Linked DNA regions of Homo sapiens. The protein of the gene in region 1 purifies or fractionates together with the protein of each later gene. This does not show direct contact. Each region holds a gene or a part of one and is shown in the gene's direction. Other genes may lie near its edges.

Evidence for each region. Proteins that work in one complex are often made in the same cells at the same time.
Region 2: the proteins of KCNMA1 (region 1) and TIMM21 purify together in Homo sapiens (affinity purification with mass spectrometry, with the first as the bait; one large-scale study listed by BioGRID). This does not show direct contact.
Region 3: the proteins of KCNMA1 (region 1) and FUNDC2 purify together in Homo sapiens (affinity purification with mass spectrometry, with the first as the bait; one large-scale study listed by BioGRID). This does not show direct contact.
Region 4: the proteins of KCNMA1 (region 1) and TNPO1 purify together in Homo sapiens (affinity purification with mass spectrometry, with the first as the bait; one large-scale study listed by BioGRID). This does not show direct contact.

Annotation. Positions count from the first base shown.
Region 1 is NC_000010.11:76,888,532-76,893,694, reverse strand, and holds part of KCNMA1 (Calcium-activated potassium channel subunit alpha-1), read left to right. Parts: intron 1-1,975; coding exon 1,976-2,170; intron 2,171-4,125; coding exon 4,126-4,244; intron 4,245-5,163. UniProt on the Homo sapiens protein: Potassium channel activated by both membrane depolarization or increase in cytosolic Ca(2+) that mediates export of K(+). It is also activated by the concentration of cytosolic Mg(2+).
Region 2 is NC_000018.10:74,151,250-74,155,022, forward strand, and holds part of TIMM21 (mitochondrial import inner membrane translocase subunit Tim21 precursor), read left to right. Parts: intron 1-3,773. UniProt on the Homo sapiens protein: Participates in the translocation of transit peptide-containing proteins across the mitochondrial inner membrane.
Region 3 is NC_000023.11:155,050,571-155,054,343, forward strand, and holds part of FUNDC2 (FUN14 domain-containing protein 2), read left to right. Parts: intron 1-1,099; coding exon 1,100-1,231; intron 1,232-3,773. UniProt on the Homo sapiens protein: Binds directly and specifically 1,2-Diacyl-sn-glycero-3-phospho-(1'-myo-inositol-3',4',5'-bisphosphate) (PIP3) leading to the recruitment of PIP3 to mitochondria and may play a role in the regulation of the platelet activation via AKT/GSK3B/cGMP signaling pathways.
Region 4 is NC_000005.10:72,885,888-72,889,660, forward strand, and holds part of TNPO1 (transportin-1), read left to right. Parts: intron 1-1,182; coding exon 1,183-1,335; intron 1,336-2,190; coding exon 2,191-2,416; intron 2,417-3,773. UniProt on the Homo sapiens protein: Functions in nuclear protein import as nuclear transport receptor. Serves as receptor for nuclear localization signals (NLS) in cargo substrates.

The DNA of each region.
Region 1 (5,163 bases):
GATCTCAGATTACTGCAACATCTGCCGCCCGGGTTCAAGTAATTCTCTGGCCTCAGCCTCCCGAGGATCTGGGATTACAGGTGCCCGCCACCATGCCTAGCTAATTTTTTTATTTTTAGTAGAGACTAGGATTCACCACGTTGGCCAGCCTGGTCCCAACTCCTGACCTCACTCCTGACCTCAAATGATCCTCCCACCTTGGCCTACCAAAGTTCTGGGATTACAGGTGTGCACCATGCTTGGCTGACCTCCCATTTTCTACCACATCGAGTTTAAAATCCCTTGCTTGGTTTTTAAAGCCCTGAGTTCCCCACGCCTCCAAGAAAACAAAGAAGATTAAAAATTCAAAGGAAAGTTGAGAATGGAGCTGACTGTTCCTCTACTTGGCAAAGGCCTCATGTCTCTGATATGAGGCCAAAATGTTTATCAGTGCTTCCTGTGCACCAAGCATGTTTCTAAGTGCTTCATGGGTAGGTCATAGAGCCCCACAGCCTTCTATTATTACATTTTACAGATCATGAAACGGAGGCACAAAAATGTTAAATAACTTTCCAAGGTCACACAGCTTCTGAGAGGTGAAGTCAGCATTAAACCCCTCAGCCCAGCTCTGGATCCCTGGATCCCATAACCTCTCCAGAAACATATCCTACTTTAAGTATCCTTTTTCTGCTTCTGTGCCTAAGGGCATATCTTAACTCTGAGCATAAATTTCCTTTAGGGTCTGGCAGGCTATGGATAACATTCCTAAATTCTTTTGCAGTTGGAATTTTGTATCACAATGGGTGTTTTTGTAAGTATTTCAATGAGGATTGTGAATCCAGCCCCGCTAGTAACTATCATCTTAATTCAGAAGTCCTCATGGAATTATGTGAATATAAATTTGGTTTTAATGACCACTGTTATTTTACAGACGAGAAAAATCAAAGTCCAGAATGACTAGGCAACCTCCAAGACATAGAACTAGTTAGCAAACCTGGGATGGGAACTTGAGCTCACCCTTACTTGGTTTGTTCCCTACTATGCCTTGCCAGCTAAACTCTCTAAGAAGCTGCTGAGGTGCAATTGCATCTTTCCTTACCTCTTTCCAAAGTGCATCCTCAAAAGCCACAGGCAAACTTTGATTTGAGTTTTTTAGCCTGCTTGATTTCTACTTACATAGGAAAATGGAATGCACACCCTTACCTGAGAATTTCTCAAATTAGGCTGGTGACAAATACCTTTTAAAGCTCCTTTATTTGACATCCTATTAATTTTTTTTAAACTCCCATTCTTTTGTTCCTGACAGATCTGTTATGTTTCAGATGTGACACAAATGTACACTTAGAGGGAAACTTCTTTAATAAGTGATATTTGCCTCAGACTACTGAGGTTATTTTAGAAAACAAAAGCCAAAGTACACTTACCAGGACATTCACCTTTTCATAAATTTATCCGGCATATTTAATTGATCGAGATTTCTGAGTTAGACAGTTATCAACGCATGTGGTAAATCGTTAAGCGTGTGGCATTAATGAAAGGTTTTGCCGTTGTCGTGGGGAGGAAGCTTCCTGGCACATGGATGACAGGGCCTCAGAGACAATGCTGCTTGGGTTAGTAGCTGGGGCAGGCTGCATTTTATTACACGTGTCCAGAATCTCATAGTAGTCACGTAGACTTTAGGAGGGGGAGGCAATATTTGTATCCCTACTAAAACCAATTATGGCAAACACTAATTATTCAGATTTGAGCCCTTTACTAAAAAATCCCCTGAACTGGGTTTTTTAAGTCAGGCTGTCGTAGCAGAGCCAAGCAAGAGAGAAAATAACGGAATAATTGGAGGCTGCTGTCTTTTCACTCCCCACATGAAATTATTTGAAGAGACAGGCCAGAACTTTAAACAGGAGATACCAAGAAAAGTTGTAATTTGGATGTCGGCTGTCATGACTTTAGGGTGTTTGCTTAAAGGACTTTTCCCTCACTTTCTCTCCTTCCCCAGACGTACTTCAATGACAATATCCTCACCCTGATACGGACCCTGGTGACCGGAGGAGCCACGCCGGAGCTGGAGGCTCTGATTGCTGAGGAAAACGCCCTTAGAGGTGGCTACAGCACCCCGCAGACACTGGCCAATAGGGACCGCTGCCGCGTGGCCCAGTTAGCTCTGCTCGATGGGCCATTTGCGGACTTAGGGGTGAGTCCACAGCACCGAGGTCACCTGAGCTTGCTGTTTGGGAAAAGCTTGATCCTGAAGAACGTGGTATCAGATGTGACAAGCTAGGCATCTGGCTTTTCTCCTTCCTATTGTAGATAACTGTAAGAGGTGATATTTATTTATAGTTTACTCTGGATCAGACACTTTGCTCTATGCATAGTCATTCATTTTAATCTTCATAGCAACCCTTTGATATAAGTTCTAGTATCACACCTTCTAAGTCAACTGAGGCCCAGAGAGAATGAGCACTAGACCTATTGGGAATTTGCACCAAGGCATCCTGGCTTCAGAGCCAGTGGGCTTTCTCCCTCCTTGGTGTTCTCTTCACGTATCCTCTGCACAAGGTGAGAAGCAGCAGGTGATGCCAGCATGCAGCCAAGGTTGGGAAATATTTCCACAGGCTCTTAGCGTAGCTTAGGGATACTCAACCCAACTATACATTAATAGCACATGGAGGTGGCCAGCCTCAGCCTGCAGGTTTCTTAGTTTTTATATGTGAATAGGACCCAGGCACTGGTGGTTTTCAAAGCACCAGGGTAGTCAGTAGTCAGATGTATCCAGAACCACCGGCCAAACAAACCGAATCTTATGTGGATCCTTTAATGCCTGTAAATCAAAACCTAGACCTTGTAATTTCTGAGAGTGGACCCAGTCACGTTCCCTCATGTCCTCCCTGTGACGGAAGTGGCCAGCGTCTCCCTTCTGATTCCATGTATCTGCCTAGTGTAGGCACTGTGACAGAAGTGTGCTGTCTTTGCCCTTATTCCCAGCCCAACCCCACAGATGCATTTAAGAGATGCAGCCATAAGTCACAGAAACTGATAAACCTGTTACACAAACAATGGTGTCGCCCAGAAAGACTAAATAGTGGAAAAGGAGCCAAGGAAAGGGTCTGTCTCTGTTTTTTCTGAAACAGTGCTGCATACTTTCCCCATATTTTAGTTTGATCATGGACTGGGACCTATGTTAGACTAGGCTTTTTTTGAAAGGGAATTTTCATAGCTAGTGGCTCTTTATACCTATCATTTACTTATTGATGCACTTGATTAGGATAAAGACTTTAGATAATGGTAAGATTTGGTCCCATCAGTGTTCTTTGGTATGAGACCAATATGAGAATTCCAATGATTGGAAGGACAAAGACAGTCATTTTATACCCAGTGAAGCCATCCCGCAGTGCCCAGTGCCCTTCATATAATACAGGTAACATCTACCTGAAGCCACCTGGCCGCTGAAGCCAGCATTTCCAAGTGGATGCATTTGCTTTCACTTTCTGCATCAGGCCCCAGACCCCGGGAAGGTGGCTGTGAACTGATCAGAACTGCGAATCCTAGTTATTCAGCCTGCAGACCCCTGGCTCCTAGGGAAACACATTCTCTTGCACCCTTGCCATCTCTGAGGTCTGTAAATTGTGCTTTTCACAGGGTCCTTACCTCCTGAAAGAGTCTGTCACCATAGGACCTGGTGGGGTCCTCCTCCTTGCGGTGGTTTTCATTATCACTCAGACAGTTTTGACAACACGAGCCTATCACAGCGGTTACAGCTGAGCTGGGACTGAACATAATCACCATTTTGCAGAGAAGGGTTCATCTCCTCAGCTGAGCATACATCTGAGACCATCAAGCTTTACACTTTGACTTAAAGTGAGGGAGAAGCATAATCTCCTTAGAGCTTTCAAACCCCACTGCGACAGGTGGAAAACTGGAGAGACACCAGAGGAAAACCCCATTGTTACCTGATCCCTAAAAATCACACATATTGGGTGTAGTCTGTTAAACATGTTGACTTCTTCCACTGCCGTCCCTTGGCACATGGACCCTCCAACTTGGGAGACACCAAAACAAGCTTTGATGAAAAGACCCGTTTCCCTGCTGTCCCTTGATTTTCAGGCAAATAAAAAGGATGTTTCTCTCTGTTCTTTTGCTGTCTCCCAGGATGGTGGTTGTTATGGTGATCTGTTCTGCAAAGCTCTGAAAACATATAATATGCTTTGTTTTGGAATTTACCGGCTGAGAGATGCTCACCTCAGCACCCCCAGTCAGTGCACAAAGAGGTGAGTATTGGTTTCAACTCTGCCCTCCCACCTAATCACAGAAATATTAATATCCTTTCCTGTCCCCTACTGTAAAGGCAAAGGTCTGTATACATCTCCTCAACATGCAAATTACTCTGCCCATATTAAATCCAACACTGAGTTTGGAGGTGATGGGAAGCATTTTTCTATAATTACTAATAGTAGATGTAAAGACATTTTGGTAAGAATTCAAGTTTTGTATTAATAGAATAATTCCATCACCTAATTACAAAAGTCTGAATACACAAACATCTCTCCCAAACTCTAGCTACTAGGATAACATCTGTTGGTACCTAATATAGAGATATTTTACATTGCTAGTGTTTAAGATAAGTTTTTTTGTTTTTTTGTTTTTTGTTTGTTTGTTTTTTGAGATGGAGTGTTGCTCTGTTGCCCAGGCTGGAGTGCAGTGGCACAATCTTGGCTCACTGCAACCTCTGCCTCCTGGGTTCCAGTGATTCTCTTGCCTTAGCCTCCTGAGTAGCTGGGATTATAGGCACACACCACCACACCCAGCCAATTTTTGTGTTTTTAGTAGAGAGAAGGCTTGTTGGCCAGGCTGGTCTCGAACTCCTGACCTCAAGTGATCCACCCACCTCGGCCTCCCAAAGTGCTGGGCTTACAGGTGTGAGCCACCACACCCCGCCCTAAGATAAGTGGTTCTTCTGCCATATCTCAGAATCCCATATTTTTACTTCACATATTTTAAATTGACTCGCTTTTTAACTTTTATATATTTATTTTTGAGACAATTATATATTATCACCTTAAGCAGAGAAATAACAGTTTAGATGTGCCAATTATATTTTTCTCATATGCATTAAAATAAATTCATAGCAGGCAAAAATTAAAAGTACATCCTAGAATTACCAAGATCAGTGAGTTTGCATAATATACC
Region 2 (3,773 bases), on another chromosome or scaffold:
TTCAGGTCCAGAAACTGGGGCAATGTTCAGGACTTTGCATTAGAGCAGCTGCCTTCAGCCTCAGGAATCATCTGTAGTTAATTTCTCATGACTGTGTAATTCAGAAGTAGCCTTGTCCGCTGCCCTTGTGTCTTCCCTTTGGAAACACTGTGTTCTAGTCATCAACTCTGTTGCTTTCTGTAGGTCAGACACTCCCGACTGCCACTCCAGCCTTGCCATTAGTTATGATGGTTGCACCCACCTTGGCTTCTGTTTAACACCCCAGCCTGGTCTCTGCTTCATAATTCTTTCATCTCCATTTCTGTCAGGGCATCCTGCTCTATAAAGATGTAACTGTGGCTTCCTTGTGGCTTTGGTACACAGTGTCCTCCTGTCCCTCCTAAGAACATAGTCAGCTGGTGGGTTTTCGGGCTTTATATCTTATATCTATGGTAGCATCCCCATTCTTGGAGGCTGTTGAGCCTTTCGTCCAGTTTGCCATGGCTGTTCTGTCACTTTTACTTAATGTGGACCATCACTGTCTCGAAGTTTCCAGGAGCAGACCTAGCCAGCTGCATATCAGTTCCCAGGGTGCTTGCCTGGTTGCTAAATTCATCACAGGAGCGTGCCCCATGCTGATCAACTCTCAGCTGGTTTTGTGTTCTGTGCCCTTGACACACCACCCTTAAGAAGCAGTGGTGTCTATGTTCCCCCCCCCCCCGGGGGGACCTCCAGCTCCTTCCGAGTATTGTTCTTCTCACCCTTCTCATGCCCAGTCGTGTTGTAACTTGGCCAGGAGGGGAGGTGGAGAGCCCTCCTGAGAGCAGCACGTATCTTGCTAGGCAGAAACCCCCACCCACCCCTCGCCCAGTTTCCAAGGTGGAGGAAGTGCCAACCTTTACCAGACACTGAGCTGCTGCTTCAGGGCTAGAGGGGTCAGGAGAATTGGGATTCAAGATTTTTTACAACATTGACCTCAAGGGCCCCCTACCCAGCTTTAGGTTGCCTTTCCTCCCAAATCAGGACCCTGACCTTGGTGTGGGAGGTCTCATGGGCTTGAAATGCCAAACTCCCTGAATCCCTTCCGCCCCAGACCTCACCCACGCATTTTCTATCCTCTGGGTGCAATTTGAGTCTTGTTCTGCCGGGGAGGAGGCTCCTGCCCTTGGCACTCACCTTCACTGGTGATTAGTTACACACTTCATCTCACCATCCCTCTCCATGGCCCCAGCCACAGCCGTCTGATATAAGTCCTTAAAATTGCTGATTCCTCCTAAACTCCCAGAATAACACATCAGCCAGTACATTCCCTTCCGCCAGCATTCCATCCCAGGTCCCCATTGGTGAGAGCTGCATCAGCTGCACTACAGCTCTATGACAGGTGCTGTCAGTACCCCCCTACCACCAGGGACAGGGTCCTCATTGCCAGCCAGTGGCCGGCAAGCCAGCTCCAAAATCCAAATTGAGAGCTGCTTACCACTCCTGGTAGCACCCGTTGTAGGTTGGCTTCCCAGGGAAGTGGGATTTGCGTAAGGTTTATCAGGGAGTGCTCTCAGAATACGTCTTGAGGGATGAGGGAAGCAGGACTGGGCAGAGGGAGAGGCCGAAGTGCATTTGCAGTTGGGGCCTCAGCTGCTGCTCTGGGGACTTCTGGAGCTGAGCTGGCCAGTCACTGTCCTACCTAATATGGGGGCTGAGTCTTATGCTTCTGCATCAACCAGGCATTGAATATGGGCTGGTCCAGGGAAGTGCCGTGACCTAAGTGAGGAAGCTCTCTTATGATGGAATGCCCAGAGAGGAGCTCAGCTGACAACTGTCCGCTACCAGTGCTCCCTGCAGCTGGGAGCCCCATACCACAGCACCCACTATAGGAGGGGTAGAGAATTGTGGAAGCAAATAAATGGCATGAGGGTTTTTTGCATACAAGTATTAGGTCTGATAGGGTTCAGAAAGTTAGACAGTGAGCAGCTTCCATTGGAGACAGCTATAAAGTAACAAACAGAAATTTTTCAAGTGTGTAGAATATGGAGAATATTTAGCACAGGGCTTTATATATAACAGATATACAGGAGCTGTTGTTTATCAAATAAATGGAAAAGACCTGTCAGATACCCTAAGCAAGGTAGGAATGAATTGTTGGAAGGGACAGTCAGAAGTCCAGGGTGTTGGGGCCAATGACCCGGTTTGGGTAACAAGGACAAATAAGGATACTTACTAGAACTAGTTAGTTGTTATTGTATTCTCAACCTGGGAGTTGATACATAACTGGCAGGTAATATTTATTGAAATGTATTTTGTGACACTGAGAGTGGAATGAGATGTCGTCATTGTAGGCCCCAACTCCTGAACCTTGGAAGGGAAATTGGATTTGTGACAATTGTTTGAGTCAGTCCCATGAATTACACAGATTTTGGCAGATGAGGTCTTTTTATTATTTGAATAATGTCTTCTAAGTTGGGAACCTTGCTGAAAACTTGAAGGATTGTGATACGCTAAAGACTACTTTTAAACAAGCGTTGTATTAGCTAAATACTTCTTTTAAACAATGTTGTTTATAAACATAATAGAAGCTTTTTATACAGAAGAGAAAATAACAGCAACATCTATTAAAATTTTCTTCCAAAAGTTTTTTTCTTAAAAATTTTTTAAAGATTTATATTTCAGAAGTCTGAATGGCTAATGTGGTGAATAAATTAGTCTATAAACATAATGCCAGGAGGTGACTCACTTTCTCAGCATCAGTGAAAAGCATAGTCGTAATTGTAATGTTAAGGTAGTGTAACTGTAATGTTATAGCTCTTTGCATATATATGAAGATACACATGGTAGATATACAGTAGCTGTTGGTAAGTGAAAAAATAGAAAGACTCACCTGATACGCTAAGCAAGGCAGGAATGAAATGTTGGGAGGGACAATCGGGAATCTAGGGTGATTGGGGTAATAGGGACAAATAAGCGTACTTGTATATGTATTTCTGTATAATACAAATACATTTATTTATAGCTATACATATGTATATATTCTGTCCCCTGACACTGTCTTTTTTTTTTTGGACGGAGTCTCGCTCTTTCGCCCAGGCCGTAGTGCAGTGGCGCTATCTTGGCTCACTGCAAGCTCCGCCTCCCGGGTTCACGCCATTCTCCTGCCTCAGCCTCTCGAGTAGCTGGGACTACAGGCGCCCGCCACTGCGCCCGGGTAATTTTTTGTATTTTTTGTAGAGACGGCGTTTCACCGTGTTAGCCAGGATGGTCTCGATCTCCTGACCTCGTGATCCGCCTGCCTCGGCCTCCCAAAGTGCTGGGATTACAGGCATGAGCCACCGCGCCTGGCCCCCTGACACTGTCTTGATTGAGTTTCTCTAGCTCTCAGAGTGTCTGTTTAACCCATATGCACATATTTTATTAGTGTGGGAAAACAAATGTCTGGTCTGTGCATTTTCTTCATTTTCTAAGTTTAATTCATAAATCTTTCTGGCCAACCATATTCCTACTCTGAACACAGTTCTGTTTTTATGCACCAGTCAGTGTGGGGTGGGACTGGCATTCGAGCTAGTTACTAACTGTTAAGAGTTGACACCCATTTTGGTCCATTCAGTCCCTTACCCATTTGGTTGACAAAAGCCAGCACTCTTCCTAATCTGGGAGTGTTGCCTAACCTACAGCAGTTGTGGACTGGATCACTTGTTAAAAGGATTTCTTCATCCTAAATTAAAACATAGATTCCCAAGCCCTGCTCTGAGAATTCTGCTGAGGCGCTGACACACAGGGAGTTTTCAAAACAGCTGCCCCTGAAC
Region 3 (3,773 bases), on another chromosome or scaffold:
TTTGTTCTTTTTAGTACTAAGTAATATTCTATTGTGTAAATATGATACAATTTGTTTATCCATTCATGTGTTGATAGACTTTTGTGTATTTCCAGTTATAGACTCATAAATAAAGGTACTATGGCTTGATTACTTGTGAAGTTGAACTTTTTCCTTTTTGTGGACACTTTCCTCTGAATTGCCCTTACCCATTTTTAAAGTGAACTTTCTTACTGATCTCTATAAGAAGTTCACTTTTTTGAGTATCAATGTTTTGTTTATGATACACATCACAAGTATTTTCTCTAGTCTGTTTGGGTGACTGGTGGTGCCATTAGCTAAAATAGGGCCTAGAGGAAGAGCAACAATGCAGGAGGAGACTCTAGCAAGGTGAAGACTTTTAGTTTCAGATATTTTGAGATTGCCAAAAATTTGGTAGAGAGAAGTGATATTGATAGGGCATTGATTGATTGGCTACAGTCATTCTCTTCATTCCTAGGATGATATTAATCCATCATCAAAATCTACATGCTTGAATCAGATTTACACTGAGTTTTAGTGTTTGTGCCTGCTGTTTTTATCAAGGGAAATAGGTATATGCTGTAGGTGTCTTTGGATGTGGTTCTCTTAATATCCGTTTATATGAACTTGCTCATGAGAAATCTCTGTGGGGCCAGATGCTAGATTTCTTCCTGTTAAGCAACAGTAATAACTGCCTGAATGCTTTGCTCTGTTCACATTGTCAGGAAACTGACACTCATGGGCACATTGTCAGAGTCATTCTCTGGAAACATTTGTATTGGCTGTAAGGTCCATCTCTTCACCCTACATCTTGACCCCCCACCTTGATTTTCATCTTATGTAACTCTTTGTAAAAGGGTTGTAAGAGTATAAATAATTTAAAAGAATTGCCAGTAGTTATTTCTAGTGCCAGGCATATGGCTTCGCATATAGGGGGGATGCTGAGTAGATGTCATCATGATACAAAGAATCAAATGGCAGATGTCTCCAAAAATGGAAAGTCAGAGGGTTTCGAGAGTCTACTTCAGGATTTATCCTGACTAAAAGAAATAACAAATCTGTTTCTCATTTCTTGTTGTCATTATTGTTGATACTGTAGCTTGCAAACCATACTGGGTACATCAAAGTTGACTGGCAACGAGTGGAGAAGGACATGAAGAAAGCCAAAGAGCAGCTGAAGATCCGTAAGAGCAATCAGATACCTACTGAGGTCAGGAGCAAAGCTGAGGAGGTGAGACTTGCATTGTTCACGTGTAGTGTGTGAACAGTGCAGACAAAAACAGGGCTTAACCCTATTGTACCATATCTCAGTGATGGACAGGGCTTAAGCATTACAAAGAACTTAGAGTAATGAGACAAAACTAACTTGGATTATCATCACTTCAGAACATTTTTAAAAGCTGGATAATTGTTTGGTGACCTTTGTCTGTGCACATTTGTGGAGTGATTATCCCTTTAACCAGTTCTTGTAGGAATGTGGGGCAGCATAGTAGGTGGGAAGGATATATGGCCAGTATAATTATTTTGAGTCCCATTTTGTCGCTATACACGCATATCTCTGAAACATTCATACTCTGCTTGTTCTGCATATAACTAGTGGAAATGTCACAAGTATTCAACTCCACTGTATATCATCAAAATAGCCATAGATGATATGTTAAATAAGTGGATGTGGCTGTGTTGCAATAAAACTTTATTTAAAAACAGGTTCAGATTGGATTTGGCCCATGGGCTGTAGTTTGCTAACCCCTGATCTTGTTCATTAAAGCCAAGTTAGATTATGACCTGGCACTGCAGGGACAGGAGAAGTCCTTCCTTTTTAAAAGGATATTTTTTGCTGCTGCTTTATTACCTTTAGAAATATGTCAGATGTTGCAAATAAATAAGTACACTGAACTGGGGAGAAATAAACAAGGATCAGGGTGTCAAGAAGATAGCTGGTACTTTCTGTAGCCTGGAGTGATGAGAGATTCTCCCATTAGCTCACTCTAGCCTCACAGGGAAAACAGACAGATTGAGTGCAGGGGAGGAGAAATACCCTGTGTGCGCCTCAGGCTTCTCATGTTGTGAGTGGCTCTTCGTGCTGGTGATTGGCAAGTGGCTGGTCAAAGCTGGTGCCTTTACCCAGAGTGGGAAGGTGGCAGAGATGGGTATCTACAGGAGCCCAGAGCCCAGATAGTTTCTCTTTCCTTTCTTCCTTCTGTCTCTCCTCAAAGTTAGGAAAGTTACATTTTTTATTTCATGAAAACTTTATTATTCAAATGTTTATAAAAATAATGCATGGCTGGGCACAGTGACTCACCACAGTGAGTAAAAAAAAATTTTGTAAGAGAGGTCTCACTCTGTTGCCCAGGCTGGAGTGCAGTGGCACAGTCATGGCTCACTGTTGCCTCAACCAAGCGATCCTCTGACCTCAGCCTTCTGAGTAGCTGGGTCTATAGGTGTGTACCACCACACCCGGTGAAGTTTTAAATTTTTTGGAGAGACAGGGTCTCCCTGTGTTGTCCTGGCTGGTCTCAAACTTCTGGGCTCAAGCAGTATTCCCACCTCGGCCTCCCAAAGTGCTGGCATTACAGGTGTGAGCCATGGCACCTTGCTGAAAACTTTAAAAATAATACTGGAAGTGTATATAATAAAAAGCATAAAGTTAATATTTGATTAGAACCAACTGTTGACTCACAGAGGGAGTTTGTTATAAAGTAACCAGATAATTTGGAATTGAGTTCACTGTCACAGGCCCTGGGGATGTAGTGGCTGGTTTTCCTACTCATAGAGCCGGTGGTCTGATTTGAGAAACAGGATGAAGATTTAGTTCAGTATTTACCAACAAGATGACTTCAGTGAGAACAGTTTGGTGGGGTGGTGGAGTTGAAAGCCAAATTAGCAAGTTGAAGAAAGAGTAGTAAAAATAATAAACGAAACCAATTTTCTCAGGAAGTTGTATGATTTTTTTTCTTCACCCCAATGGCAGATGACAAAAGTGCTTCATTTAAGGAAATGTAGAGGTCCAGGAGAGATGGAGGAGGAGTGGAAATGAGGCAGGAAGACATAGGCATCGTTGGAGTAAGGGCTTACTGGAGGGTTAGAAGACAGTGGTCCTAGGAGGATGGGGTTGGTAGTGTGAAAAATGTTAGGGGAATGTCAGGGTGTGAGTAGCTTAGGTGGTTTGGGGATGGAAGTCACCGTACTTGAGTTCAAGAAATGATCAGGCCAGGATGTTGGATGTCTTGTTCATATGAACACTTTCTAAGGTGGTGATCACACTTAGGAGAAAGAGGAAGTCTGAGCCACTTATCAAAATTGTCTCTGAAATTGGAAGGGTGGGGAGTGGTCAGGAGATTGGTAGAGCACAGACTAAGGAGCCATAAAGAGTGTCTGAATGTATGCACTGAGTCTCAGATGACCGGGAGCTATTCCAGGAGGGTAGAGGGGAGGTGGGAAGCTTTGGGAACTTAAGGAAATAAGAACGTCACCTGTTAATCATCTTAGATGTGGTGAAGTGTGAGAATGAGAATTTATAGCATCTACCTGGGAGCAGGTTTCAGGGGGGAATGCATGGATGGAGAGATTTAGGGGAGAGACTTCAGGAAATGAGAAGCCTCTATTGGAGGGTAGATGCCAAAGAGGATGGAAGGAGCAAAATTGGAAACAGAATTGCCTCTGTAACCAGTTTATTTAGTGCAGCTTTACTCTTTCGCCATAACTGTCCCCATGAACTCTCCTTCTTTGTCCTTGATTCAAAGAGCCATTGTCTCTACCTCCTGATGTGCATC
Region 4 (3,773 bases), on another chromosome or scaffold:
AGGGGCTGCATCTGGTGAGAACCTCCTTGCAACATCATCTGATGACAGAAGGACACACTTAAGAGCTCAATTCACGCTTATAATAAGCCAACTCTCTTGATAACTAACCCACTCCTACAGTAACGACATTAACCCATTTATGAGGGCAGAACCCTTAAGACCTAATCATCTCTTGATAGGCCCCACCTCCCATCTTCGTTGCTTTAGGGATTAGGTTTCTAATACATGAACTTCAGGAACACGTTCCTACCCATAACAGTTAAATGATATTTTTGTTGTTCTTTTTGATTTTGTTGCTCTTGTCTAAATTATTATTATAATAAAATCTGGGTTGATTTATAGTCCCATAGTTAATTCTTTGTAAAGAGTATTTTCTAGCATGCGTTATGTTTCATGTGCCAGTGACTTTTCTTCCAGTTTTTGTGTCTAAAGTCCAGCTAAGTAATTGTCTGTTTAATTCTAGATGATATACTGCTGGAAATGTTAAGTAGAGTTAATAATGTATGTTTTTTGCGTGATTGTAACAGTGATTGTAATCATGATTGTAATATGAGTGTATCATATTGAATGGTTATGTTAGAAGCACTGAATTGAGTGGCACAGTATTTGTTTTACTGTATAGACAGAATTCTAGTATGACAGTTATGTACAGAATACAATGTGTTCACAATTAATTTGCCAAGTAAGTTCTTGTCATAAAAAATATTCATCTTAATAGAAAATGTTTTTGGCTGGGCATGGTGGCTCACACCTGTAATCCCAGCACTTTGGGAGGCTGAGGAGGGTGGATCACGAGGTCAGGAGTTTGAGACCATCCTGGCCAACATGGTGAAACCCCGTCTCTCCTAAAAATCAGCTGTGCGTACTGGCACACACCTGTAATCCCAGCTACTCAGGGGGCTAAAGCGGGAGAATCACTTGAACCTGGGAGGCAGAGGTTGCAGTGAGCCAAGATCGCACCACTGCACTCCAGCCTGAGCGACAGAACAAGACTCCATCTCAAAAAAAAAAAAAAAAAAAAAAACCACAAAATGTTTTCACGTGACAAACTACCTCCTATTCAATTGAATTCTTATTTTAAAACTCCGTATTAGAGATACGAATAAAATGTTACATATACAATAAATAATATATAAGTAATAAGAGGTTAATGTAATATTTTTGAATTAAATATTTCCTTAGGAAAATGTTCTGCTGCTGCCCTGGATGTTCTTGCAAATGTGTATCGTGATGAACTGCTGCCACATATTTTGCCCCTTTTGAAAGAATTACTTTTTCATCATGAATGGGTTGTTAAAGAATCAGGCATTTTGGTTTTAGGAGCAATTGCTGAAGGTAAGCCTAAGTCCAGTTTGAATTATGTAAGTTGGCTTCTTACTACTATTAGGTACTAATAAGGCTAGGCTACTTTAAGGAATTTCTATTTTGAACCAGATAACTAGTATTAAACAGCCATAGGCCGTCTTCTAACCCCAGCTAGATATTTTGCAAAATGTTTTTGTTATAATAAAGGTAACAGAGGCCAGGCATGGTGGCTCACGCCTATAATCTCAGCACTTTGGGAGGCTTAGGCGGGTGGATTACCTGAGATGGTTTCAAGACCAGCCTGGTTAACATGGCGAAACCACGTCTGCTAAAAATACAAAAATTAGCTGGGCGTGGTGGCATGTGCCTGTAGTCCCAGCTACTTGGAAGGCTGAGGCAGGAGAATTGCTTGGACCTGGGAAGTGGTAGTTGCAGTGAGCTGAATTCGTGCGATTGCACTCCAGCCTGGGTGACAGAGCAAGACTCCATCTCAATAAAAAATAAAAACAAAAAAATTAAGGGAACAGAATGAAAGGCTCTGATGTCTGAAGCATCCCCATTGCTTTAAAAAAAAATCCTTGATTCTTTAGGTAAGTATAGGAAACACAATAAGGCAAGACTCTCTTCATTCTCTATGAAGGGTTATTATTGATTTTGTCCTGGCAGTAAACATCTATTAGAAGAAATTGAAACACTGTAAGATGCTTGGGAGCAGGTAGCTCTAACTTCAGGGTTTTAAAAATAATTTTGGTATAGGTTATTGTAGTATGTGTATAGCAGTAGAAATATTCTGAATTTTTTCATAGATACGTGTTTTATTTTCATAATCAACCAAAATAATGTTAACTAAATTTTAGCATTTTGAAAGATTTATTTTTTTTCTAGGTTGCATGCAGGGCATGATTCCATACTTGCCTGAGCTTATTCCTCACCTTATTCAGTGCCTCTCTGATAAAAAGGCTCTTGTGCGTTCCATAACATGCTGGACTCTTAGCCGCTATGCACACTGGGTGGTCAGCCAGCCGCCAGACACGTACCTGAAGCCATTAATGACAGAATTGCTAAAGCGCATCCTGGACAGCAACAAGAGAGTACAAGAAGCTGCCTGCAGGTGGGACAGATTCATAACACAGTGTTCTTTGTGGCAGTGAAAAACTTAATTTTCAACCTTCTGATGGAGTGTTGGTGTTAAACCTATAATGAAGTGTTTCGTAATTGAAAATTTTCCAGTTATATCAGAAAGCTTAGTTTTCTTTTTTCTTCTTGGTGAAGTGTTTTGCAGGATCTGTAGCTTTTGGGTTTGCATATTAGCGTATTTTATACATTTTGTTTGGCCAGGAGAATTTTGTCATGTGGGTTTTACCTGATGATTTTGTAGATCTAAATGTGACAACATCGATCTTAGCTGTTTCTTCTTTGGCTCATTTTTCCCACTCAGTGGTTATTATAACAGAACTATCTTACACCCTAATTCCCTCAGACATCTGAACTAGTGATGGCAGGACTCCTACTCTTGAAGGAATAACAACGTTTGAGCAGATTGACATCCTTAGACTACAGGTCAACCACCATAACTCAGAAAGTCCCACAGGGACCTGTGGTCTGTCACTTACCAGTTAAAGGTCTTTGAGTGCTTAGTAGTTCTGCTCTAGTAGCCATTCTATTGGTTGGTTTGGTGGCTGTCTCTTTATATCAAGCCAGCAGTTGCTTTTATTACTACAAATATTCCAGTTTCCTGCAATATACCTTTATATTTTAAAAGGGCCTTCTGCTTATGTTTATAGTTCTTAATTTTTCGAGTAGGTTTGCTTTTACCATTGACCTTGATAGTAGGAAAAAATAACTGTTGAACAAAAAAAAGGAAAATTTTATTTTATTTTTTTTAGATGGAGTCTTGCTCTGTCGCCCAGGCTGGAGTGCAGTGGTGTGATCTTGGCTTACTGTAACCTCCGCCTCTCGGGTTCAAGCAATTCTCCTGCCTCTGCCTCCTGAGTAGCTGGGACTACAGGTGTGCGACACCATGCCCAGCTAATTTTTGTATTTTTAGTAGAGATGGGGTTTTGTCATGTTGGCCAGGCTGGTCTTGAACTCCTGACCTCAAGTGATCCACCCATCTTGGCCTCCCAAAGTGCTGGGATTGCAGGCGTGAGCCACCGCGCCTGGCAGGGATAGTAAATTTGAGTTTGACCTTAATCCATCTGAAGCAGTCATATCTGGAAGATATTAAGGGAGGGAGGATATAGATTATGTTTGAGATCCTATAATTTATTCATTCAGTACCTCGGTTTTTTTTTTTAGCTATTAATTGTTAAGCATATACTAAATGCTGAGTTTACATAAAGTCCCTGCCATCTTGAGACTTACAGGTTAGTAGGAAATACAAAGCAGCAACATAATTATCATTTATGGCAAGTGCTATGGAAGAAATCGGTAAATAATTCACAGTGCTGATGACCAGGGCTTTCATT